Regions from separate parts of the Homo sapiens genome. Here region 2 is linked to region 1. The links come from fine-mapping of genetic effects on gene expression. Tissue or cell type: whole blood. Region 1 holds a variant in brackets; the other region holds the start of a gene. All regions are shown on one strand. Distances are from middle to middle.

What was found. PIP is the estimated chance that this variant, and not a neighbour inherited with it, causes the effect.
Region 2: it holds the start of MPEG1, and the variant in region 1 is fine-mapped to the expression of MPEG1 in whole blood (INTERVAL, PIP above 0.99).

Annotation. Positions count from the first base shown.
Region 1 is chr11:59,149,771-59,157,878 of GRCh38, reverse strand. It overlaps FAM111A (FAM111 trypsin like peptidase A), which reads right to left. Exons shown (of 6, transcript NM_001312909.2): 6 at 2,840-6,129. The coding sequence ends at 4,375. Among named protein-coding and RNA genes, the nearest start is that of FAM111A, 11 kb to the right of the region's middle. RefSeq lists an enhancer at 5,167-5,296. The variant AAAT/T (reference allele first, on the strand shown) is at 4,007.
Region 2 is chr11:59,209,355-59,217,462 of GRCh38, reverse strand. It overlaps MPEG1 (macrophage expressed 1), which reads left to right and starts at 4,536. Exons shown (of 1, transcript NM_001039396.2): 1 at 4,536-8,108. The coding sequence starts at 4,598. The coding sequence ends at 6,748. It also overlaps the pseudogene RN7SL42P. RefSeq lists an enhancer at 4,360-4,559.

The DNA.
Region 1 (8,108 bases):
ACAGGTGTGCATGGCCTCCGTCCCATTTGGGGACAGAGATATCTCAGTTGCATTCTAATTATCTTTCTCTAAAAGCAGCTGAGGTTGAGGCAGAAGGGAAGGGATGGGTTAAAGGGGGGCAAAGGGGAAGGAAATTGGCTACATGTATTTTTAGTTTTGAATGACTAGTTTGTATTCAATCAAATAAATTTCAAATGTTTTGTTCGCCCGAAGCTATATATCAAATAGCAAGGTCCTTATTGCTGACACCATGTATTTCAACTTCAGGGATTCTTCACTCAGTAGCCACAACCACGTTGCTTTTCTGCTGGGCTGTGGGGCTTGCTGCTCCATTGTCATGAGAGCATCCCTTCCTGTTCCTGCCCAGAGGAGACTGAGTCACATGAGTGACAACCAAAGAATCATTTGGGTGGCTTATTTCAATTCTACCTCTGGCCACTCAGACTCATTAGCAGGTAGGTCAGTGGGGGACCCTTAATTCACTCGCCCTTACCCCCACTGCACCTTCTGGAGAAAGTACAGCCCTGCCAACACCTTGACTTCAGGTTATACATTTCTGTCCTCTCATGACTGTGAGAGACTAAATTGTTTTAAGCCACCCAGTTCATAACAAATTACCCCAAACTTGGTGGCTTGAAACTACAGAAATCTACTCTCTTATTTCTGGAGACCAGAAGTCTGAAATTAAGATGTTATCAGGGTTGGTTCCTTCTGGAGGTTTTGAGGAGAACCTGTCCATGCCTCTCTCCTAGCTTTTAGTGGCCTCTGGCAATCCCTGGCAACCCCTGGCTTGTAGATGTATCTCTCCAATTTCTGTCTCCATCTTCACATGGCCTTTCTTTCTCGGTTTCTCCTCTGTGTTTCTTCTTTACTTATAAGGATGCTCGTTACTGGATTTAGGGCTCACCCAGTAAGTGCAGGATGATCTCATCTCTTGAATCTTAATTTAATTACATCTACAAAGCATTTTTGTCTAAATAAGGTCACATTTATAGGTATATAGGGTGAGGATAGTGCCTGCCCTTAGGGGCAGGCACAGTTAAACCCACTACAACCTTGTTTAATCCATTATCCCATTTCAAAGAGAGATCTGGAGTAGAATGTGATAGTGGGTTAGCTCTGTAACCAGGAATTGGATGAGTGAGTGGTGATAAATCCAGACCTAAGCTGAATTTTCTAGCTACCTGGTCTTGAGAGCTAGGACAAGAGAAAATCAGAGAAAGGTATTTGCTGCATTCTGAAATGCTTATATTTCTTAAGTGATCCAAGGTGGGTGTACTTTAGATGCAGGAATGGCCATAGTAGTGTCTGGATCTGATGAACTAGCTCTTAGGAGAAAGAACAATAAGCTATATTTCAAGATATAAGTCCCAGTCTTTTCCAAGATATCACCAATTTGGGTAAAAATTCAGTTATACTTCCTTCTCACACAGGCAACAGGTATAATAATATCTGCTCTAATGTGTATTGAGATAATATGTCAGAAATTATTTAATAAACAGTAAAGCCACGTAAGTTTAAGTCTCTGTGACGATTAGGCAGGCATTAGACTTGAAACCATATTTGAAATGATACAGTCAGTTCTCATTATTTGTGGTAGTTATGGTCTATAAAGATGCTGCAAATATTGAATTAGCAAATACTGAAGCATTGCCTTTAGGAGTAACACAGTGTTAAATTCATATTATCTTCTGGTCACAACATTTTCATCAAAGTCAGTAAATAAACTTGCTTTATGTGTGTTTCTGTTAAAAATACAGCTTATTTAATATATATTGTTGATTCCTTAACATTGAACTCACAGCCCAAAATGCCATAACTCCTGTCTGAAAAGCTTATCTAATACATATGTTTTCTTTATAAGGCATATTGCAGCCATCTTTTGGTAGGGAACACTCGACAGAACCTCAGTTTTATGCATGGGACCCATTTAAGCACTTAAGCAGAAAAATCACCACCAACAACAAAAAAGAAAAATGTGGAAAATGTACTAACTATATAAACAGAATCTGATTATATAGCATTCTAGAAGATGCAAAACCATAAAGATAGTAAAAAGATCAGTGATTTTTTTTTTTTTTTGCTGGGGTTCAGGGGAGAGGGGAGGGATATGAGGGATACATAGGTGAAGCACAGATTTCTAGGGTGATATAACTATTCTGTATGATAAAACCCATAGAACTTTACAGCACAGAGTGAATCAATGAATACACATTAAAATATCATTTAGGAGGTCAAGGGGTCAAAGGAAAGAATTCAAACTGTGACAAGAAAATCTAACTATTATATTATGTATAACTGTACTATAAGCATATAAAACGTCACTGAAGGAGGTAAGAAACAACAGGGTGACTGAAATAACTTTGGGAATGAATGGAATATATAAGACTAAAAGCAGGGAAATTGCACATAGGCACTGTATTCTAGTTGATAAAATTATTTCCCATTGAGGTAGAGGTTAACAATTCTGACACTGCTATATATGTATACTTGGATTAAGCAATTAAGTGAATGTGTGAGGGATGGCAGGCATCACGCTTCCAACTGTTTGGAGTTGGAATTTACAGATAAGCAAGGCATATATACATATGTGTACATATACATATGTGGGTAAATATACACACAAATATTTCTTTGCCCTGTCAGCTGAGGGGGCCTAAAAGAAACAACACGCCACCAGCAATGAGCATATCTAGTGCCTAGATCTTGGTTTCTAATGCCATTCTTCATTAAAAGTCACCAGGTGTTTCACGGTGAGCAGGTCAATGCAAACCTACCCCAACCTACCCCCAAAGACCAAAGAAGCTGAGAGGCCAAAGAAAGAGGCTGACAAATACGGTTTCTCAGAAAGAAACATTTAATAGGAACTTACAAACAGAAGCAATGTTTCTAGCAGCCACTAAATGGCGGCACTCACCCTCCCAAAAGTACCCTTTATATAACAAGCATTTTTGGCAAAACGTGTAGCTAGTCATATCTCAGACTTTCTTGTGAAACACCTGAACACTGGGGAGGTTAGATAAGCATCTTTATGAGGGGTTATCTGTACTACCGGCACTGTTTAAAGACATTGCTGCAGAATATCTTGGTATGCAGGAGTCAAACAGCAGTCATCATGCCAGCTGCTCTTCAAGATGACATCACTCTTACAATGCAACAGGCTGTTTTCCTACACTCGACCCCTCGAAACCAGTCCTTAAAATCTTACATGCCTGCTTCTTCTGTGATAGTCCCTGGACCTAGAGGGAGGGTGCTTGATATTGTATGGCTTTAGTAGTATTGCAATGGAAATGGAAAACAGATTGGGTCCAGTGGAATTCCACAAGAGGGAGATTTGCAGGCTTGGTTGAATCATCTATATAGTCTTCATAATACCATGAAGAAGTAAAACAATGAGAAATACATAACATTAATAATTGGAGTAGTAGAAATCTAAATAAAGTAATATGATGTTTAAGATATCCCTTGCCTTAATAGCCTATAAATATGGGAAGAGTGACTATCATCTTCTGAATTTCAAGACCCATATATTCCGACAGTTTCAGTAATATGAAGATTTTGGAAATTCTAAAAGGTTTTGAGATCATTTCTAATCAAGCATTTAGCTCTTATGTTAGCATTAATTGCAGCCCCAACTTTTGCAACTTATTGACCTGCACATTTTTCTGAGCACTTACTTTCCTTATGTCAGATGTAGGGAATCATGAGATGAACAAGTTTTGGTTCCTGCACTGTAGCAAATGAATTTAGGCAAAGATATGAAAGATGAAAAAACCCTATGACTATATGACTTTTAGTGTCATGAAACTGATTACTATATAATCTTGTTATTCTTCCCATTGCTTGACTTTAAAATAGGGCAAGTTAGCCAGGTGCAGTGGCTCAAACTTGTAATCCCAGCACTTTGGAAGGCCGAGGCAGGTGGATCACGAGGTCAGGAGTTCGAGACCCGCCTGACCAACATGGTGAAACCCTGTCTCTACTAAAAATACAAAAAAAAAAAAAA[AAAT/T]TTAGCTGGGTGTGGTGGCGTTTGCCTGTAATCCCAGCTGCTCAGGAGACTGAGGCATAAGAATCGCTTGAACCTGGGAGGTGGAAGTTGCAGTGAGCTGAGATCGCACCACTGTACTCCAGCCCAGGCGACAGAGTGAGACTCAGTCTCAAAAAAAAAAAAAAAATTTGGGCAAGTTATAGTCCATCTCATAGTGTTGTTAGGACTAATTTCTTCATGTGCTTAGAAAAATGCCTGGCAGATAGGAAATGGTCAATATTATTATTATTGATAAGATGACCATTTTGGAGTTTAGAAAACCATTTTCAATGCCTATGAAATAACAACTCCATAAGCCATTCCCTTAAATCCAGTAGACTGAATTCTCACAAGTCCTCATCACTCATCATTTCTACATCCTGCTGATTTACAAATACTTCTTCATACCATGGTTTATGTCTTTGCTTAATATCAAGGAGGATGGATTCCATGGTAGAGCCAAACTCAATGATACTACGAGTCTCATTTTGGTAAGTATAAGCAAAGCCAGCAGCATGCATGGCCACCAATGAACCTTTTGAATCAAACACAGGGGAGCCGGAAGCCCCAAAGAAAAATTCAGTGTCATAGGTAATCACATCAGGGTTGTGAACTATTTTCTGGAAACTTCTTTGAGTATACATATGGACATACTCTGGACTTTCTGCTTTTTTAGACTGAACACGTTCCTGACATTTCTTTGCTCGCTGACCCTGAGGGATCACAGCACAAGCATCAATCTGCTTTTTTTCTCCATATGGATGGCCAATAATATGTATCAACCCACTAAGTGGCACAGGAGTAATTCCATTATATAGTTCCATAGGTACTTGTTGTCCATTTTCCTTCAGTTTCAGGACAGCATAGTCAAGCTCTTCATTATGTATCTCAAACCAAGGTTCAACAAAAAAGTAGTTTGTTTCCTTGTCTTTTAGCTCTTCATAACCAAATGTCACCCTTACACATTGACCAATTATGGTTGCCCACTTACTTGGCTCTATTCCGTCTCCCACAATGCTATCTATTACATGCCGACAAGTTAAAATGAACAATCCTTTAAAAACAAAGCAGGTGGCGTAACCCGTAGTTGCACTGTCCCAGAATAAGTACCCAACTGAGTCACTGAGACGTACAAGAAGTTTCACTACTTTAATCGAAGAAGAATTTTTTGTTACTTTCCCAAACGTTGTTCTATGCAATTCAAATAATGTTTCCCCATTTTTTACTTTCATTTTTTTCTTGAAGTTTTCAATGATTTTTTCACTTTCTCTTTTCAAACTGGGGTACTGAGCCACGATTTGTTCTCTCAACACACAGGTGTTTCTTTTCTCTGACTCAGGATTCTGAGAAGCTGCTGCACTGGGGACCATTCTTTTCTCAACCTCAACCTGAAAGTATCTGCCTTCTAATTCATCAACTGGCTGGGTGCTTTCTAAAATGGTGTCATTGTTTTCAATGAGTTTCCAATCATCATTCTCCAGAAAGGAAAGAAATCTGCCATCCTTGCACAGTGCATCCTTGATGGTTTCTCCTTTGAAAGCATAAACACAGAGTTTGCGCCCCTTTTTGTGAAGCTTCCCACATTTAACAATCCTTCTTTTACACTTCCCAATTCCAATTGCATGAATGTAAAATTTGACACATTCAGTCGATGCTTTGTCCTGCCTGCCAAATATGTGGTTATCTTCCTTCTGCTTACTTTTACTTTGGGAAAATGTAATGACCACCTGGCCACCTTCAGGGAAACAACTGAGGGGCATTCCAAGGTTTATGTACTCTTTGATTCCTTCTGTGCCACGCACAAGCATTTCTTGGCCTTGGTGAGTTTCTATCTCTTTTCTGACAGCCTGGAGAGTGTTGAGAGCCATATATAAGCTACTATTCTCACTATGTGTGAGCTTAAGTTTCATATCTTGGTTTCTCCTGTGGTTTACCTTCAAGGTAACATATATTGTCCTATTTTGGGGCATGGTCTGGTCTTCTGGATTTTTCTTAGGTGAATGGAATCTTTGAGCCTGGGTATTAGTTGTGGCTCTTGGGTCTCCTCTAGACTCCATCCTCATTAGAGAAGTACTGCAATTATTCTGTTGCTCTTTAGAGACCTAAAAATAAATGTTAGATACTTTAAAACTCTGAATGCAACCCGAGTCTTTTGTTTCTCTTTTCAGGTATGCAATTCACAAAATTCCTATGAGAAACTGAGAACCAATCTAAAAGGGCCAGTGAATAATATTAAATCAGTGTTTGACATGGGATCCAAAATGAAAGCGGAGCTTCCTATAACCTCTGTCAGATAAACTCTTGGTACCACTACACTAGTGCATTCTTCTGAAAAATATGAGGGAAGAAAAAATTTTTTCCCAGGTGCCTCAAAAACAGAGATTCTTAAAAGTTCACTAGTGGCCGGGCATGGTGGCTCCCACCTGCAATTCCAGCACTTTGGGAGGCCAAGGCGGGTGGATCACCTGAGGTCAGGAGTTTGAGACCAGCATGATCAACATGGTGAAATCCCGTCTCTACTGAAAATACAAAAATTAGCTGGGTGTGGTGGCACATGCCTGTAATCTCAGCTACTTGGGAGGCTGAGGCTGGAGAAATGCTTGAACCTGGGAGGTGGAGGTTGCAGTGAGCGGAGATAGCACCATTGCACTCCAGCCTGGGCAACAAGAGTGAAACTCCATCTCAAAAAAAAAAAGTCCACTAGTATTTGAAATAGTTTTATTTCAGGACTTGTTTATTATCTTCAGCTATATAATTTTTATATTTCCTGAGGACAATAATGAATTACAGCAAAAAAAAATTGTTCTTGAAATACTGAATTCAGCGATAAGCTACCGCAATTTATTATAAGCATTACATATTAAACAAAATCATTATTTAACTAATCATTTGGTTATAATGTAGTTATTTGTAACAATAAATACTTTGATTTGCCCAGCATATATCATGAAAAGAACTCTATTTTCTCTATTACATCAACTAATCCCCAAAGTTTATAAAATAAGGAGGAACAAACATGACTTATCTATCCTTTTGATGGAGAAACTAAGGCACAGAAAGTTTTTCTTGTAGACGTCTTTTCTAGGGTCACATAATAACCAATAAATAAAGTGAGTATCAAAATTGCAATTCCCAGTCCAATTATATTTTCCACTGGACTAGTGTATACATTCTTTTTTGTAAACTTTATATTTATGATTGCCATTTTTGTAGCGCATTATCTTAAGAAACGGGGGTGGAGGTGGGGAGAGGAATTAAATAAAGAGGCTTAATCAAATAGTAGAAACTCAGTGAAAAATTAGAGTGTCTGTTTCCTATGTCTAAAAAACACATTTTTCCCAAGTCATATTCATCATGGCATGGGTACCAGCAGATATGGGTCCGTATGCCAGCAATGCCCCTTACTACTACTGGGAATAACAATGCTAGGAATATTGTAAAGATTAAGTGTAGCATCATTGTATGACAATGCCTAGCACAATGACTAGCACATAATATGTTAACATTTGTTTTCCTTCTTTATACTAATATTCCAGATCAAAAATAAATAAATAAAAGGGACTTAAGGTAATGCAGATTTACCCTGGGCTCACATATAAACTCTCAAAGAGCATCCCTTCAGCCTAATGCTGTCAGAAACATCTTTGTCATGCACCCTATTAGAGTACTATAATAAATTTCCTATTTATTAAAATGATTCTTGGGCAGATATAGACACTTCTGAAAGGGGAAGAGGAATAGGATATAGTAATTAGCTCTGTCATGGAATAGGATAGAGAAAAACATAACTAAGTTTGCCTTAGACTTTTTAGATACTTGGATATTCTAGTTTTCCAGAACCAGGACAAAACAAAACAAGTTGAGAAATTGTAAGCTTCATACTCAAATGTTTACCATTCCTCAACTTTTTTCTTGATAAATTCAAGGAGAATTTTAGACTCAGGGAAAGATACAATGGTTTGATATGATAACAGAGCCCAATCAGTAGAAAAAGGCCCAACTACATGTCATTAAACTTAACTCCAAGTCTTCACTTCATTCCTGCCTTAAGCAACAACTCACTTTCTCCCTCTTCTCCAAT
Region 2 (8,108 bases), 60 kb before region 1:
TTTGTGGTCAGATCACCAAATGATCCTGGTGGAAAGAAGAGCCTCTGAGGGGAAGAAGCTGACAACGCAACTCTTAAAACGTCAGGCTAGGAATCAACTGTTCAGAAAGGAAAATACTGCCACTTTGTTCACTGATACTTTCCAGATTTTCCATAACAAAGTTTACTGCAAAGTCTTTAAAAGCCATAGTTCTCTGATCTACTTAGTAATTATTTAACCATCAGTTTTCACACTGGTTTCCTAGATTCCTGCTGAAAGGGAATTGTCCCAGCAAATGCAACTAGACTTTCCTCCCCATTTTAGACCACAGGTGAAATGCAGAAGTAGGAAACACCTGGATTAGTTCCAAGCCCACACAGAAGCGAACCTCAGATATGAATCACGGTTTGGCGCTGAATGAGATGGTGTCAGAAGGTTGCACGGGATCAAACAGAGAAAGAAAGCAGATGTGGGACTTCCTTCTTGCCTCTTTTTGGAGGAAGTGAAATCGCCGTTCAGCAACGCAGATGCAAAGTTTTTGTAGACAAGATGCCTCTTTCTTTTAGAGATCAGTGTTAGCCACAGGCCATTACTCCTCAAGTGTGGCCATCTGGGGAGGTTATGTGACTGCATATGCATTCCAGTACAAGAAAAAGCAAAGGAAATTTCTGGTGAACAGAATAAAACAGAAAAGTTGTGGGTAAAATGCACTGGTCACCACTTCCTCATATGTGACTGTTATGAGCAGTTCTTCTGCTCCTGGTATGTAAAATTAAGTTAAGCCAAATTTCCCATCATTTGCACTTCTCCTTTCACTGTTTCCCAGAGAACTGGAAAGAGAACTTCCTTGAGCACAGCAGTCACATAATCCATAGGCTTTGGGTCATTTCAGGAATATAAAAATTCCAGAACTAAGTTTTTTTGTTTGTTTGTTTGTTTGTGTTTTTGACAGTCTCACTCTGTCTCGCAGGCTGGAGTGCAGTGGCACGATCTCGGCTCACTGCAGCCTCGAACTCTTGGGTTCAAGCAATTCTCCTGCCTCAGCCTCCCAAGTAGCTGGGATTACAGTTGTGTGTCACCACTACATCTGGCTAATTTTTTTGTATTTTTAGTAGAGATGTGGTTTCTCCATGTTGGCCAGGCTGGTCTTGAACTCCCGGCCTCAAGTGATCCATCCACCTCGGATTCCCAAAGTGCTGGGATTACAGGCATGAGCCACCCTGCCTGGCCTGTTTCTTTTGTTTTTTTTTTACATGGTTGTGCATTGGTTATTTTCCTGAGCACAAAAGTGATGATTACCCAATACCCATCAGTGTTTGGTACTTAATAGGCTCTGAATACAAATTTCTCGAGTTAATAAATACATGCTCATTGTTGAAAACTCAAAAAACACAGAAAAGAGGAAAAAATTAAAATAATTTAGAAAAACCTCTCAACCAGATGTAATTACTGTCTATGCATTGGCGTACATCCCTCTAGTTATGTACATAGTTGGGGTCATGCTGAATGTTTATCATTCTTTTTTTTCATAACATTATTGTCAGAGATATTTGAACCAGAATAACTCCATCTCGAATAGGGGCTGGGTAAAAGAAGGCTGGGCTGCATTCCCAGAGGGTTAAGTATTCTAAGTCATGGGATGAGATAGAAGATTGGCATAAGATACAGATACAGATCACAAAGATCTTTCTGATAAAAGAGCATGCAGTAAAGAAGGCAGCCAAAACCCACCAAAACTAAGATGGCGACAAGAGTGAACTCTGGTCATCCTCATTGTTCATTATACACTAATTGTAGTGCATTCGCATGCTAAAAGATGTTTCCACCAGTGCCATGACTGCCAATTTCCAGAAGTTACCCTGTATAGTCTAAAAAGGAGAGGAACCCTTAGTTCTGGGAATTGCCCACCTCTTTCCCAGAAAACTCATGATTAATCCACCCCTTGTTTAGCATATAATTAAGAAATAATGATAAGTATCCTTAATCAAGCAGCACATACTTCTGCTCTGCCTATGGAGTAGCCATTCTTTTGTTTCTTTACTTCTCTAATAAACTTACTTTCACCTTACTCTGTGGACTTGCCCTGGTCCTTCTTGCACAAAGTCCAAGAACTCTCTCTTGAGGTCTGCATTGGGAACCCTTTCCAGTAACATTATGGCATAAGAATTTCTCATGTTATTAAAATAGTTTTAAATAATTGTGATGGCTATACAATATTTTGTCTTATGGGTACAATGTAATTTTACCGTTGTTGGCTCTTTCTGCTATTTTCAATTTTTTTTTCCTATGATAAAATGAAGACAAAGTCTATAGAATAAAAAATACAGTGACTAGACGTCTGGAGACATAGGAACACCTGAATATAGAATTGTCTGTATTAACCTTGCTTGTATTCTCATTTCAGGAGAGTGAGCTCTCAACAGGGTCTACTAAAGAGAAAGCAGAGGGTAACAAATTGTCAGCTTGTCTCCAAAGCAGTGTGAGAGTATTCTAATTTTGATGAACCATCCCAGAAATAGTTTGAAGAGAAGTATGTAGGTATTTCAACAGACTTATTGGAAGTACTCAAGGGCATTCAACTCTCATTTTTCTAATTCTGGGATCATGCTGCTGAGGTATAAATTTATGGCTAACTGATTTATAAATTAACTAGAACATCCTGTGCAAAGATTTGGTTCTTTAGCCAAATACAGACTAGGCACTGGTTCATAAATTAATCCCTCTTAGGTGGCTGGTGTCACTTCCCAGAAGCATGATAACTGTGGCACAAATAGAACCAGAATGGCCAGGTGTGGTGGTGCATGACTGCAGTCCCAGATTCCTGGGAAGCTGATGTGGGAGGATTGCTTGAATCCATGAGTTCTGGGCTGTAGTGTGCTATGCCAGTTGGGTGTCTGCACTAAGCTCAGCATCAATATGGTGGCCTCCTTGGAGCAAATCACCAGGTTGCCTAAGGAGGGCTAAACGGGTCCAGGTTGGAAATGGAGCAGGTCAAAACTCCTATGCTGATTAGTAGTGGGACCATGCCTGTGAATAGCTACTGCACTCAAGCCTGGGCAATAAGCAAGACCCTGTCTTGGAAAAAAAAATATACCCGGAATGCAGTATTTCTAGATTTATAGAACACCATCATGGTTTTGATAATAACTGGTGAAGCCCAGCCTGGGAAGCAAGATAACTAGCCTCATTCTTTCTAAAAACACTTCTTTGCTGCATTAATAACCAACAGAGGAATTCAACTCCTTGGAACCTTCCTTCCAGGATGCATACAGGTGATGGTGTAGTGATACCTGTGAATTGCAACATGACTTTTTCAGTCTCAGTACTGTATCTAGTTCATGGTATAATCTTGGGAATGTTAAGGATGCAACTGGGAGCTTCACTAAGTCCTCTGGATTCCCTGGCTACCACTAAGCATACTAAGACATAGCCTAATTGTCCCAAAGAATTAACAGAGTTGGGTTTCAATCAAACCTGTCACCATTGTTTTAAATTATGGGCTCTAATAGAGCTGGCATTGGAACTTGAAAAGAAACTCATGTAATTATATTCTTCTAATGATATAGCAAATGAATTTTTGCTTTTAGAAAAAATATTGGGTAGTGAAGAGCCACATTCTTTTTTATCCACCTAAACTGATTACACACACTTAGCAATGGAACAAAAAATTAAAGGTATAACAGGTACCAACTTCATACAAAATGCACACACACAGAGGATATATAAATGTGTGTACACATACACATATGTTCCTTGGCCCCTGTCTGCTGTTGATAAATCAAAATCTAGATAATAGTGTGGTTTTGTCTTGAACATTTCTATCTGAATGAAAACAACACAGTGTAGGAGTTCCTTGCCCTCGCTTTGAATGCTTAGGACAATGCAAATTGGGGTTTCCCAGCATATTGCAACCGAATCCTCTTCAGGCCCTGTCAGCTGTGCTCCAGACAATGCCATCCCCAAAGACAGAATTGCTATGGTTCATAACAGTGAAACCCACAGGACAAGTGTCCAAGAGTTTCACTCCTTTCTTTTGTGGAAACAGCCTCCACCCTCAGGCAAAGAGGAAACCCAGGGTTGGCCTTGACTAACAGCTTGCATAGGTATGGTGGAGCCAGGGTGTTTCAGTAAGGGTGGTGTGGTCATTTGCCTCTGCATTTATAGTAAAAGAAAACTGATAATGGAGTCCCAAGAGACAGCAGTCAGGGAAAATATGAAACATCAAGTCCAAGAGAATGAGCAAAAAGCAAAGCCAAACTTTCTGGTGGAGGAAGCAGTAGGGTGTGGGGTCGGGATTTTTTTCTAAGTGCACACCCCTGCAGCAGAGTAACCAGCCAGAGCTGGGGGAAAAATTAGGATAGCTACCTGTTAGGCATGTAGGGGTGTGTTTGCATGTTTAGTACGGCATAAATTCTTCAAAGACCTGATGGTCTTTAATATTCCAACCAACTCTCGTTTCCCCATTTTGTCATTAAATTAGCTTAAAGAGGAACTTGTAGCTTTTAGAGAACTCATGAGTTTTCCGCTTCATCATCTGCTTCTGTTTTCTCCATCTTAGTTTGCCCAAAGCTTGCTGGCCGCTGTGTAGGGCTGGTGAGTGGCTGGGGCTGTCTGAGCCATGAACAACTTCAGGGCCACCATCCTCTTCTGGGCAGCGGCAGCATGGGCTAAATCAGGCAAGCCTTCGGGAGAGATGGACGAAGTTGGAGTTCAAAAATGCAAGAATGCCTTGAAACTACCTGTCCTGGAAGTCCTACCTGGAGGGGGCTGGGACAATCTGCGGAATGTGGACATGGGACGAGTTATGGAATTGACTTACTCCAACTGCAGGACAACAGAGGATGGACAGTATATCATCCCTGATGAAATCTTCACCATTCCCCAGAAACAGAGCAACCTGGAGATGAACTCAGAAATCCTGGAATCCTGGGCAAATTACCAGAGTAGCACCTCCTACTCCATCAACACAGAACTCTCTCTTTTTTCCAAAGTCAATGGCAAGTTTTCCACTGAGTTCCAGAGGATGAAGACCCTCCAAGTGAAGGACCAAGCTATAACTACCCGAGTTCAGGTAAGAAACCTCGTCTACACAGTCAAAATCAACCCAACTTTAGAGCTAAGCTCAGGTTTTAGGAAGGAACTCCTTGACATCTCTGACCGTCTAGAGAACAACCAGACGAGGATGGCCACCTACCTGGCAGAACTCCTGGTGCTCAACTATGGCACCCACGTCACCACCAGTGTCGACGCTGGGGCTGCTCTTATTCAGGAGGACCACCTCAGGGCCTCCTTCCTCCAAGACAGCCAGAGCAGTCGTAGTGCCGTGACCGCCTCTGCTGGACTTGCCTTTCAAAACACCGTGAACTTCAAATTTGAGGAAAACTATACCTCGCAGAATGTCCTCACCAAGAGCTACCTCTCAAACCGAACCAACTCCAGGGTGCAGAGCATTGGAGGGGTTCCTTTTTACCCAGGCATCACCCTCCAGGCCTGGCAGCAGGGTATCACCAACCACCTGGTGGCCATCGACCGCTCTGGCCTGCCGCTGCATTTCTTCATCAACCCCAACATGCTACCTGACTTGCCAGGCCCCCTGGTGAAGAAGGTGTCAAAGACAGTGGAAACTGCTGTGAAGCGCTATTATACATTCAACACCTACCCTGGCTGCACAGATCTCAATTCTCCCAACTTCAATTTTCAGGCCAACACGGATGATGGCTCCTGCGAGGGGAAAATGACCAACTTCTCTTTCGGTGGGGTTTATCAGGAATGCACTCAGCTCTCAGGGAATAGGGATGTCCTCCTCTGCCAAAAGTTGGAGCAGAAGAATCCACTCACTGGTGATTTCTCCTGCCCCTCTGGCTACTCCCCGGTGCACCTGTTATCCCAGATCCACGAGGAGGGTTACAACCACCTGGAGTGTCATCGAAAGTGCACTCTCCTCGTCTTCTGCAAGACCGTGTGTGAAGATGTGTTCCAGGTGGCAAAAGCTGAATTTAGGGCTTTTTGGTGTGTGGCCAGCAGCCAAGTACCTGAAAACTCAGGACTGCTTTTTGGGGGCCTCTTCAGCAGCAAGAGCATAAACCCCATGACAAATGCACAGTCATGCCCAGCCGGCTACTTTCCACTGAGACTCTTTGAAAACCTCAAGGTATGTGTTTCTCAGGACTATGAGTTGGGAAGCAGGTTTGCGGTCCCCTTTGGCGGGTTCTTTAGCTGCACAGTTGGGAACCCCCTGGTAGATCCTGCTATATCCAGAGATTTAGGGGCACCGTCTCTGAAAAAGTGCCCCGGGGGCTTCAGCCAGCACCCAGCCCTCATCAGCGATGGATGCCAAGTGTCCTATTGCGTCAAATCCGGGCTCTTCACAGGAGGGTCCCTGCCCCCTGCCAGGCTCCCACCTTTCACCCGGCCACCCCTCATGAGTCAGGCTGCCACCAATACTGTCATAGTGACCAATTCTGAGAATGCGAGATCCTGGATTAAAGACTCCCAGACCCACCAGTGGAGGCTGGGAGAACCGATAGAGCTGCGGAGGGCCATGAATGTCATCCATGGGGATGGTGGTGGTCTGTCAGGAGGGGCTGCAGCTGGGGTCACAGTGGGGGTCACCACCATTCTGGCTGTTGTTATCACCTTGGCCATCTACGGCACCCGGAAGTTCAAGAAGAAAGCATATCAGGCAATTGAGGAAAGGCAGAGTTTGGTTCCAGGCACTGCAGCAACTGGAGACACCACTTACCAAGAGCAGGGGCAGAGTCCAGCTTAAATCTCTCCCCGAAAATGGTTTCTCTCATCTCCAGTGTGGTCATTGCTGACCACTCTGTTTTCCTAAGCATTGAAATGGCAAGTGCAACCAAAAGTAGGTATATTCGTGACTTCTTGTTTAGGTCTCTGGGCCAGGAAATTCATACTGTTACATGGATAAGGTTGGGATTGGGGAGAGGGAACAGTTGGGACTAGAAGCAAAAGTGATTCTGGGACTAAAATAGGAAGCAGATGTCCTTTCCCAATGTGTGTTGCTGTCTTCACCTGAATGCATTTGTGTAAAAATAGCGGAGGGACAATGTGAACATTTGTATTTGGAAGCTATGAATTTACTCTGAAGTTTGCAGTTGTTTCCAATTTGTGAGCTCTAAGAGTTTCTGCCTGTAAGAACTACTCTCCTTTTATTTTGATTTTTAAAAACCTGTCTGAATTTCACACTCTTAGAGCCTGGAAGAGCCCTGAAAAGACACAAGTCTTGCCTGGCTACTGCTTTTTAACTTTGAGGGCTCTATGTTGACAGACTGTTATCTCCTCTGGGTGACCTCAAACATCTGAAAAGAAAGATGTTGCCTGTGCCAATTCCACTTTTTCCAGCTGCCCCTTGATGAACACTCCCTTATACCAGACCACTCTTGGACTTCTGACTGGTGTCATCAAGTCCTCAGAAAATATTTTAAGTTATTTTAAGTTATTAAGGAAGGGATGATTTGGAGACAAGGAGTAATGAAAGATGGGTAAAAACTGGAAAAGATTCTGGTGCTAAGTACTACCCCTTCATCTTCCATGGATGGTCATTACCTTTCCTGTCCTCCTGTTATATGAACACACACACACACACACACACACACACACACACACACGCACACACATACCACATTTCAATAAGTCTTCATTGTTCTGGGTCCTTACCTTTCCTGTCCTCCTGTTATATGAACACACACACACACACACACACACACACACACGCACACCACATTTCAATGTCTGCATGGTTCTGGGGGTAACAAAGGCAAGAAGTTAAAGTAAGACCACATTTGAGTATTACTTACTCTGTAGAATCAAAACAGAGTAGTTAACACCAATTATGCAAACTACTTTTTTTTCCAGCAGAAAGGGAGCTGACATGATCAAATCCATGTTTTCAAATGAACTGAAAAAGGCATCCAGCACCACTTATAACACATTTATTTCAGTTCCAGGCTGACAGCCCTGGGGCATCTAGCAGGATGCATAATTGTCATCTGGTGAGAGTTGGGACTTTGCTCAATTTTAATACCAATCTCTCCTGATTGTAATTACCTCCACTACTTTCATGATCCCCCTACAATATTTTTTTAAATGATATATTTATTCACTGAATC